2 linked regions of the Homo sapiens genome follow. The gene in region 1 interacts genetically with each later gene. Each region holds a gene or a part of one and is shown on either strand. Other genes may lie near its edges.

What was found.
Region 2: changes in LARS1 (region 1) and PPP2R1A together harm fitness more than expected from each alone (negative genetic interaction), as found in Homo sapiens cells (one large-scale study listed by BioGRID).

Annotation. Positions count from the first base shown.
Region 1 is NC_000005.10:146,155,034-146,158,856, reverse strand, and holds part of LARS1 (leucine--tRNA ligase, cytoplasmic), read left to right. Parts: intron 1-1,061; coding exon 1,062-1,129; intron 1,130-1,228; coding exon 1,229-1,454; intron 1,455-3,823. UniProt on the Homo sapiens protein: Aminoacyl-tRNA synthetase that catalyzes the specific attachment of leucine to its cognate tRNA (tRNA(Leu)).
Region 2 is NC_000019.10:52,192,965-52,196,787, reverse strand, and holds part of PPP2R1A (serine/threonine-protein phosphatase 2A 65 kDa regulatory subunit A alpha isoform), read right to left. Parts: intron 1-3,823. UniProt on the Homo sapiens protein: The PR65 subunit of protein phosphatase 2A serves as a scaffolding molecule to coordinate the assembly of the catalytic subunit and a variable regulatory B subunit.

The sequences.
Region 1 (3,823 bases):
CCAAAGTGCTGAGATTACAGGCGTGAGCCACCGTGCCCGGCCTCCAGGAATATCTTTTTACGAGCTCTCAATGTGATGTATATGCATGCTAATGTTGTGAAGCACCATCTGGAAAATAAACAGCTCTAAAAAGAAAGCATGGGGAGAGGTAATAAGATATGTGACCAAGATTTGATATACACAGATTCCAGTTATATTTGCTTTGATCATGTGCCTTCTTGCTTATTTCCAAAGTAATTCTAGCCATGCCTAGAAGTTCATTCTAATTCCTGTAGAACACATTATTAACATTATTCTCTGAAATACTTGAATAAATCAAGAGTAAGTGATTTGGCTAAATCCATGGCAAAGTAAAAATCAATGACAATGCCAGCATCTGAACTTATGATTCCCTATGATTGCATCATTTTTTATTACCATCTTTGAACATATTTTCAAAATCAGCCTTCAATTTTGATGTAACTTATCTAAGTGAGAGTTGATCAAAATTTTAAAAGATTTGAGAGACTTAAGACCCAGTAAAGTTTTAATATAGCCAATGGCAGCAATATCCTAGATTTCAGTAATCCTTTGTAGATTTTTCAAAGCATTTTTCATCTGTTATCTTGTGTGTTCCTCAGGACAGTCCTATCTGAGACGCAACATCCTTATTTTACCAATAAGGAAAGAAAGGCTTAGAGAGATTATGACTACCTTGGGTCTAACCATTAGTAAGGGAGCAAACTAAGTTTAGAAAGCACATTATCTCTGACCTCTGGTCTAGTGTCTTCCTTTGATGACTACTATGTGGGACATGCCCTGGGATGGAATTAGGGTTGATTGTGTCTTCTCACCTTCATTTTGGCAAACACTATTTTGGGCGATTACTCCAAATCTCTCCTAACGTACTAGACTTCTGTGTGGGTATAGTTAGCACACCACTGGCAATCTCTTCTCTGCAAAAAAAAATTAATAATGCAAGAACCCATTTTAGGGACTTGAATCAGATCTCTCACATAGATTAGTAGGTTTAAGGCAAGTCTTTTTTTTCCTTCAAATTTTTGTATCGTTTATTTGCTTAGGGTGTTGGACCTCAGGAATATACTTTACTCAAATTGAAGGTGCTTGAGCCATACCCATCTAAATTAAGGTAGGTTTGCCAGAGTAATTGCTTTATCATTTCTGAACCATCAGATAGTTGTTACAGAGTTGACATGTTTTTACATCAATATTTGTTTTTTTTTCTCAGTGGCCTGAAAGGTAAAAATATTTTCTTGGTGGCTGCTACTCTCAGACCTGAGACCATGTTTGGGCAGACAAATTGTTGGGTTCGTCCTGATATGAAGTACATTGGATTTGAGACGGTGAATGGTGATATATTCATCTGTACCCAAAAAGCAGCCAGGAATATGTCATACCAGGGCTTTACCAAAGACAATGGCGTGGTGCCTGTTGTTAAGGAATTAATGGGGGAGGTAAGTTGGATAGCAGATTTTTTATTTTAATGCGTAAATTTCAAGGAAAATTTCAACAATGAATATTGAGAAAAGAGCATTACAACCTTAAAAAATGAGGTGTACATGCAGTAAACTGTGTAAGTCTTGTGTGTTTTGGTGCATTTTCATATGTATATACACTTACGTAAACACCACCTAAATCAAGATATAGAACAGTTTTAGCACTCCAGAAGGCTCTCTCATGTCCATATCATTAGTACTCACCTCTCTCCTCCAAAGGTAACCACTGCTCTGACTTCACCAAAGATTAGTTGTTGTTCTTGAACTTTACATAATGGAATTGTGTAGTCTGACTGTTTTGTGTCTAGCTTCTTTTGCTTAACATTATGTTTGTGAGATTCATACATGTTGTAGGAATAGTTCTTTTTTTATTGTTGTGTAATATTCATTGTATGACTGTATCATTAAGATAGCATATTTTATTTTTAGGTTTCAACTCGGTAAATATCTGGTTGAAAAATATAGGCAGTCCTCCCCAAGAGATTTAATAGCTGCATTAGTCATTATATTATTTTAAAAATACTATTACCTGAATTCCTGGTAATACTAAATTTGGAATTGTAGCTGCCTTTTTTTTTTTTCATGTGAAGAAAGTCTTGGTTGATATTAATTAAATATGGATGGTTACACAGCTCATCTACTTTATTTTATTTTTATTTTTTTTTTTGTAGACAGTTTTGCCCTTGTTGCCCAGGCTGGTGTTCAGTGGCGCGATCTCAGCTCACTGCACCTCTGCCTCCTGAGTTCAAACGATTCTCCTGCCTCAGCCTCCTGAGTAGCTGGGATTACAGGTGCGGGCCACCACGCCCAGCTAATTTTTTGTATTTTTAGTAGAGACAGGGTTTCATCATGTTGGCCAGGCTGGTCTTGAACTCCTGACCTCGGGTGATCCACCCACCTCGGCCTCCCAAAGTGCAGGGATTACAGGCGTAAGCCACTGTACCCAGCCTTATCTACTGTATTATCAATATTTCTGAGTGTGTTTAATTCCATTTAGTGAATGCTGATCTTTGGTATCTTAAATAATTTTTTAAAAAGAAAAATATGAGTAGAGTACCATCTCAATTCTTTTAAATTGAACTATTTTATTCCTTATTTAATACTTTGATTGCAGTATATTTACAAGTCCCAAAATTCAAAAAACGCAAAAAGATACAAAAGTTCCCCATTCTAGAGGTAGTTAGTAATATCTGTGTCTTGTGTATCCTGGTAATATTTCATGTATACACAAGCGAATACACACATACTCTTTGTCCCTCTGTTTTTACACAAATGGCAATATACTTTATATGCATTGTACCACATCTTGCTTTTTAATTTGTATCTTGGCAATCATTTTGTCAGTACATAAACAGCTTCTTTATTCTTATTTTTTATAGCTACATAGTATTTCATTGTTTGGTTGTACCACAATTTACTTAACCATTCTCTATTAATGGATATTTGAATTGTTTCCTGCCTTTTTCTTTTAAAAGCAGCACTGCCACATCTCTTTAGTTCCTAATGTTGGAATTTTGTCTGAGAAGTTCTTGGGAACAGTATTAGGGACATACATGTTTTCCTATTCTTAATGCAACTTTTCTCCCTGTTAATTTGAGCAAATTCTGGCGTGAGGGACATGGATGTTATAAATTGCAAAATAGTTTCAACATTTAAAATGGTTATAATATTTAGCTGTCATCCATATGACTGCAAATTCTATAAAGGCAGGTTATAAGTACATATATGAATAAAGAGGGGTGGGTGGGAATTATGTGGAAAGGAAAAGTGTGTTCCTTAGCTAGAGCAAGAAGCTGCAAATTCTTTGTTGCCATCTGAGAATTTGGGTCTAAAATTGCTTAATCTTTTGGATTTTTTCAAGTGAAATTAGAACTATCCTTTTACTTTGTCTTCATAACTACTATTTTAAATAGATGTATAGTACCCATTCTTGTTCTTGTAACATATTTTGTTAAATCATTTTTTCTATCATTGAAAGCTTTAGTTGTTTCCAGGCTTTCCTAGTATAATTAACTCAGCATTGGGTAGACTTGTTTAAGAAAAAATAATTAGTTGTTGTTGAGTCTGAGTTACATGAACATTTTGTGGCTTTTGCTGTGGATTCCTATATTTTCTTCAAGGAGTACAATGTCACAAACAATGTATTAGTGTACTCATGTCATAATATTGACAGATTTAGTTATTATAATTATTAAAAATTATTTTTCCGGGACGGGCACGGTGGCTCATGCCTGTAATGCCAGCACTTTGGGAGGCAGAGGTGCGTGGATCACCTGGGGTCAGGAGTTCAAGACCAGCCTGGCCAACATGGTGAAACCCTGTCTCTA
Region 2 (3,823 bases), on another chromosome or scaffold:
ATGGAGGATACAACCAGCGCATAATGGTAAGAGCCTGGGACCCTGACACCATGAAGTGCCACAGCAGCCTGGATTGCCACCAGACATTTTGGTCATCAGTCAGATAGAAACTTCAAGCTCATTTAAGCCCCTGTTATTTAGAGTTTTTCTACTACTTACAGCCAAACTTAACTTCAACTAACTCTGCATATGACCTAGTTCTTGGCAAAGAGATATACAAGCAAGTCTGCTGAGGAGATTCAGGAGAGATTTTCCTCCTTCATAAAAGGGAGGAGGGAAAGAACCTCTGTGTCCTAAGCTGGCCTCTGCTAAACTGCACTAAAAAGTGCAGTTCCACTAGGACAGCAGATGCTGCTGGAATCTTATAACCAAAACAGGCCAGTCAAAAAAACCGCATTTCTGTGATATCTTTGAGCTGACCCAATTCTGTGATAGCTTTGAGCTGCTGAACTTGCTATATGAGAAATAAAGAGAACTCTTACTTGTTTAAACAACTCTAGGTTGGGGTCTCCGTCACATTCCTGATAGAAAATCTATTAATATCATTTCAGAAACCTTGACTGGCCATTGATCATGTCATATCCTGAGAATTCCCTGTGCACTGACTATCTCCCAAGTGTGTCCCCACCAAGCACCTGCTACAGTTGTGATACTGTGAGATACAGATTTGGGCTTCATCCCCATTTCCTTGCATACAACTCCTCAAATCTTTGGAATCTCCAAGGCGCTTTTTGTATGCTAATGTTGACTGATACCTTCAGGATGGGGTCCATGGTCACTGGAAAGATAGTCATGGAAAACAGAGAGGCATGATTAGAGGGTTGGGATTTTCAGTCCCACCCCACAACCTCCAGGGATCGGAGAGGGGCTGAAGGTCAAGGTGATCACCAGGTTTAATCAATCCTGCCTACCTAACAATGCCTTTATAAAAACCCAAAAGGACAGGGCCTGGGAACTTCAACATAGCCGAACACACAGAGGTTCCTGGAGGGTGGTGCACCCAAGAAGGGCATGGAAGCTCCACACCCCTTCCCCCATAGCTCACCCTATGCCTCTCTTCATCTGTATTCTTTATACTATCCTTTATAATGAACTGATAAACTTACATGTTTCCCTGAGTTCTGAGAGCTGCTCTAGCATATTAATCAAACCCAAAGGCAGGGTGGTCATGGGAACTCCAACTTGAAGCAGGTAGATCAGAAGTTCTGACGACCCAGAATGGCAACTGAAGGCGAGGGCCAAGGGGCAGTTTTGAGGCCTGAGCCCTCAACCTGTTGGATCCAACACTGTCTCCAGGTCGTGTCTGAACTGAATTGGAGGACATCCAGTTGGCGTGTGCTGCAGAACTGAATGCTTGCTTAGTGGTGGTGAAGAATCCCTCCCCACCCCAACACACATTTAGTCACGGAAGTCTTCTTCTGTGTTGTTGATTGTTGTGTTAAGTGAGAGAATAGGAATTGGGATTTTCCAAAGAGTCCACCCATATGGTTCCATGACAGCACTTACCACCCTAGACTGGGACTCTCTGTGTCCCAGCAGGCCTCGGCACAGAGCCTGCTCTGTGGTGAGTTAATAAATAAAATCCGCCTTCCCACTATATGCACCTGTGGAAAGGGGACCCACTTTTGAAGATCCACCCTGCATTCAACCCATGGAGCCTTCCATAATATGAATGTATATGGTATAATCCCACATGTAGTATGTTTTCCCTGCACATTCAGAATAAAAGCTAAGGCCTTACTCTGGCCTACAAGGCCCAACACAATCTGACCCTAGTCTACTGATCCATTCTCACTGGGCCTGGCTTGTCACAACTGCTTCCTTGATAGTAACCAAAAAAACAAACAGCCCAGTGTATTCCCAACCCAGGCTTTAGCACTTGCTGACTTGGTCCCACACGGTTCCCCAGATGCCCCATTTCCTCAGGTCTGCTCAATCCCCACCATATGACTACCGCAGAACAATGAGCAAGCCAATTTCACTGCATCTTCACAACCAGGCACACGCTGATTCTTCATCATTATCCCCATTTTGCAGATGAGGAATCTGGGTCCAAAGAGGGGAAAGTACTGCTCCAGGGGCACACAGAGAGCACAACTGGCAGAGCGGGGGTTCAAACTTCAGTCACCCTCAACTCTTCCCTCTACATTACCCACCAGCAAATCCCATCAGCCCCCCTCAACATGTCCTGACTGTAACCATACTTCCCCCCTGCATGCTAACACTGGTCCTGGGTGCTTTGTAATGGCACCTCAACAGGGCCCAACCCCTATGACAGCCAGAGGAAGGATCCTTTAAAATTATACCAGAACCCATAATTACTACTGAAAGCCTTGCAATTCCTCCTCCTCCCTCCCATCTTCAAGGCCTTCACCTTGGCCCACAGGCCTCACTTGATCTAGTCCTGGTCTAGTCCTCACCTCCCACCACTTTGCCATTCTCTCTGCCTCAGTCACACTGGCCTTTTTGCTGTGCTTTGAACGCATCAAGCATCCTCCCACTCCTGGCCTTTGTACCAACTATTCCCTCTGCCCAGACTGCTCTTCCACGACCTGTTCATTTCATTCAAATCCTTGTTCAACATCACTTCCTCAGAGCAGCTTTCTCTAACCTCCCTATCTAACAAAGCAGCCCCAGGTGCTTGCTCTATTCCCTGTACCTGTCTTATTTTGTTCTTTTTTTTTTTTTTTTTTTTTTTTGGAGACAGGGTCTTGCTGTCGCCCAGGCTCTCACCGCAGCCTCGATCTCCCTGGTTCAAGCAATCCTCCGACCTCAGTCTCCTGAGCAGCTGGGACCAAGGCCTGTGTCATCACACCAGCTAATTTTTTTTTTTTTTTTGGTAGAGACAGGGTCTCACTTTGTTGCCCAGGCTGGTCTTAAACTCCTGGGCTCAAGCGATCCTTTCACCTTGGCCTTCCAAAGTGCTAGAATTGGCCAGGGGTGGTGGCTCATGCCTGTAATCCCAGCACTTTGGGAGGCAGAGGCGGGCAGGGAGTTTGAGACCAGCCTGGCCAACATGGTGAAACCCACTCTCTACTAAAAATACAAAAATTAGCTGGATGTGGTGGTGGGCGCCTCTAATCCTAGCCACTCAGGAGGCTGAGGCAGGAGAATCACTTGAACCCGGGAGGCGGAGGTTGCAATGAGCAGAGACGGCCTGGACGACAGAGTGAGACTCTGTCTCAAAAAAAATAAAATAAAATAAAACCAAAGTGTTACAATTAGGCTTGAGCCACCACGTCCAGCAATTTTTCTTCTTAGCAATTACTGCCACTGACATCCCACTACAGATCTACTATCTGTCTCCCAAACCAGAATGTAAACCCCACAAGGGCAGCTTTGCTGTTTTGTTCCCTACTGTATGTCTAGTATCTAAAACAGAGTCTGGCACACAGGAGGTGCTGATAAATATTTGCTGAACAAATAAATCAAGACTACAGGATTTCATGTCCCATGTTCCTTCTAGTATCCTGAACTGTCTCAGACACAATTAAAATGTCTGGCATATGAATATAATCAGCAACCGTGTGTCCCACCCCAGATTCTATTCCACCCTTAGGTCCTACTTCCTTTCCTGGCTCCTTCATTTCTCAGCTGCACAGCTTTGGCCATGTTATTTATGGTGCTTCAGTTTCCTCATCTGGAAAATGTGGACAAGGACAGGACCTACTTCAAAGAGTGATTGTGAGAATTCAGTAAGATCGTCAGTGATATTCCTCTGTACTGTACCTAACATAGAGCAAGCACCCAATAATTTGTTACGCAGATGGTTTAAGTCAGAGGTCAGCAATTTTTTCCCTGCAAAGGGTTAGACAGCAAATAT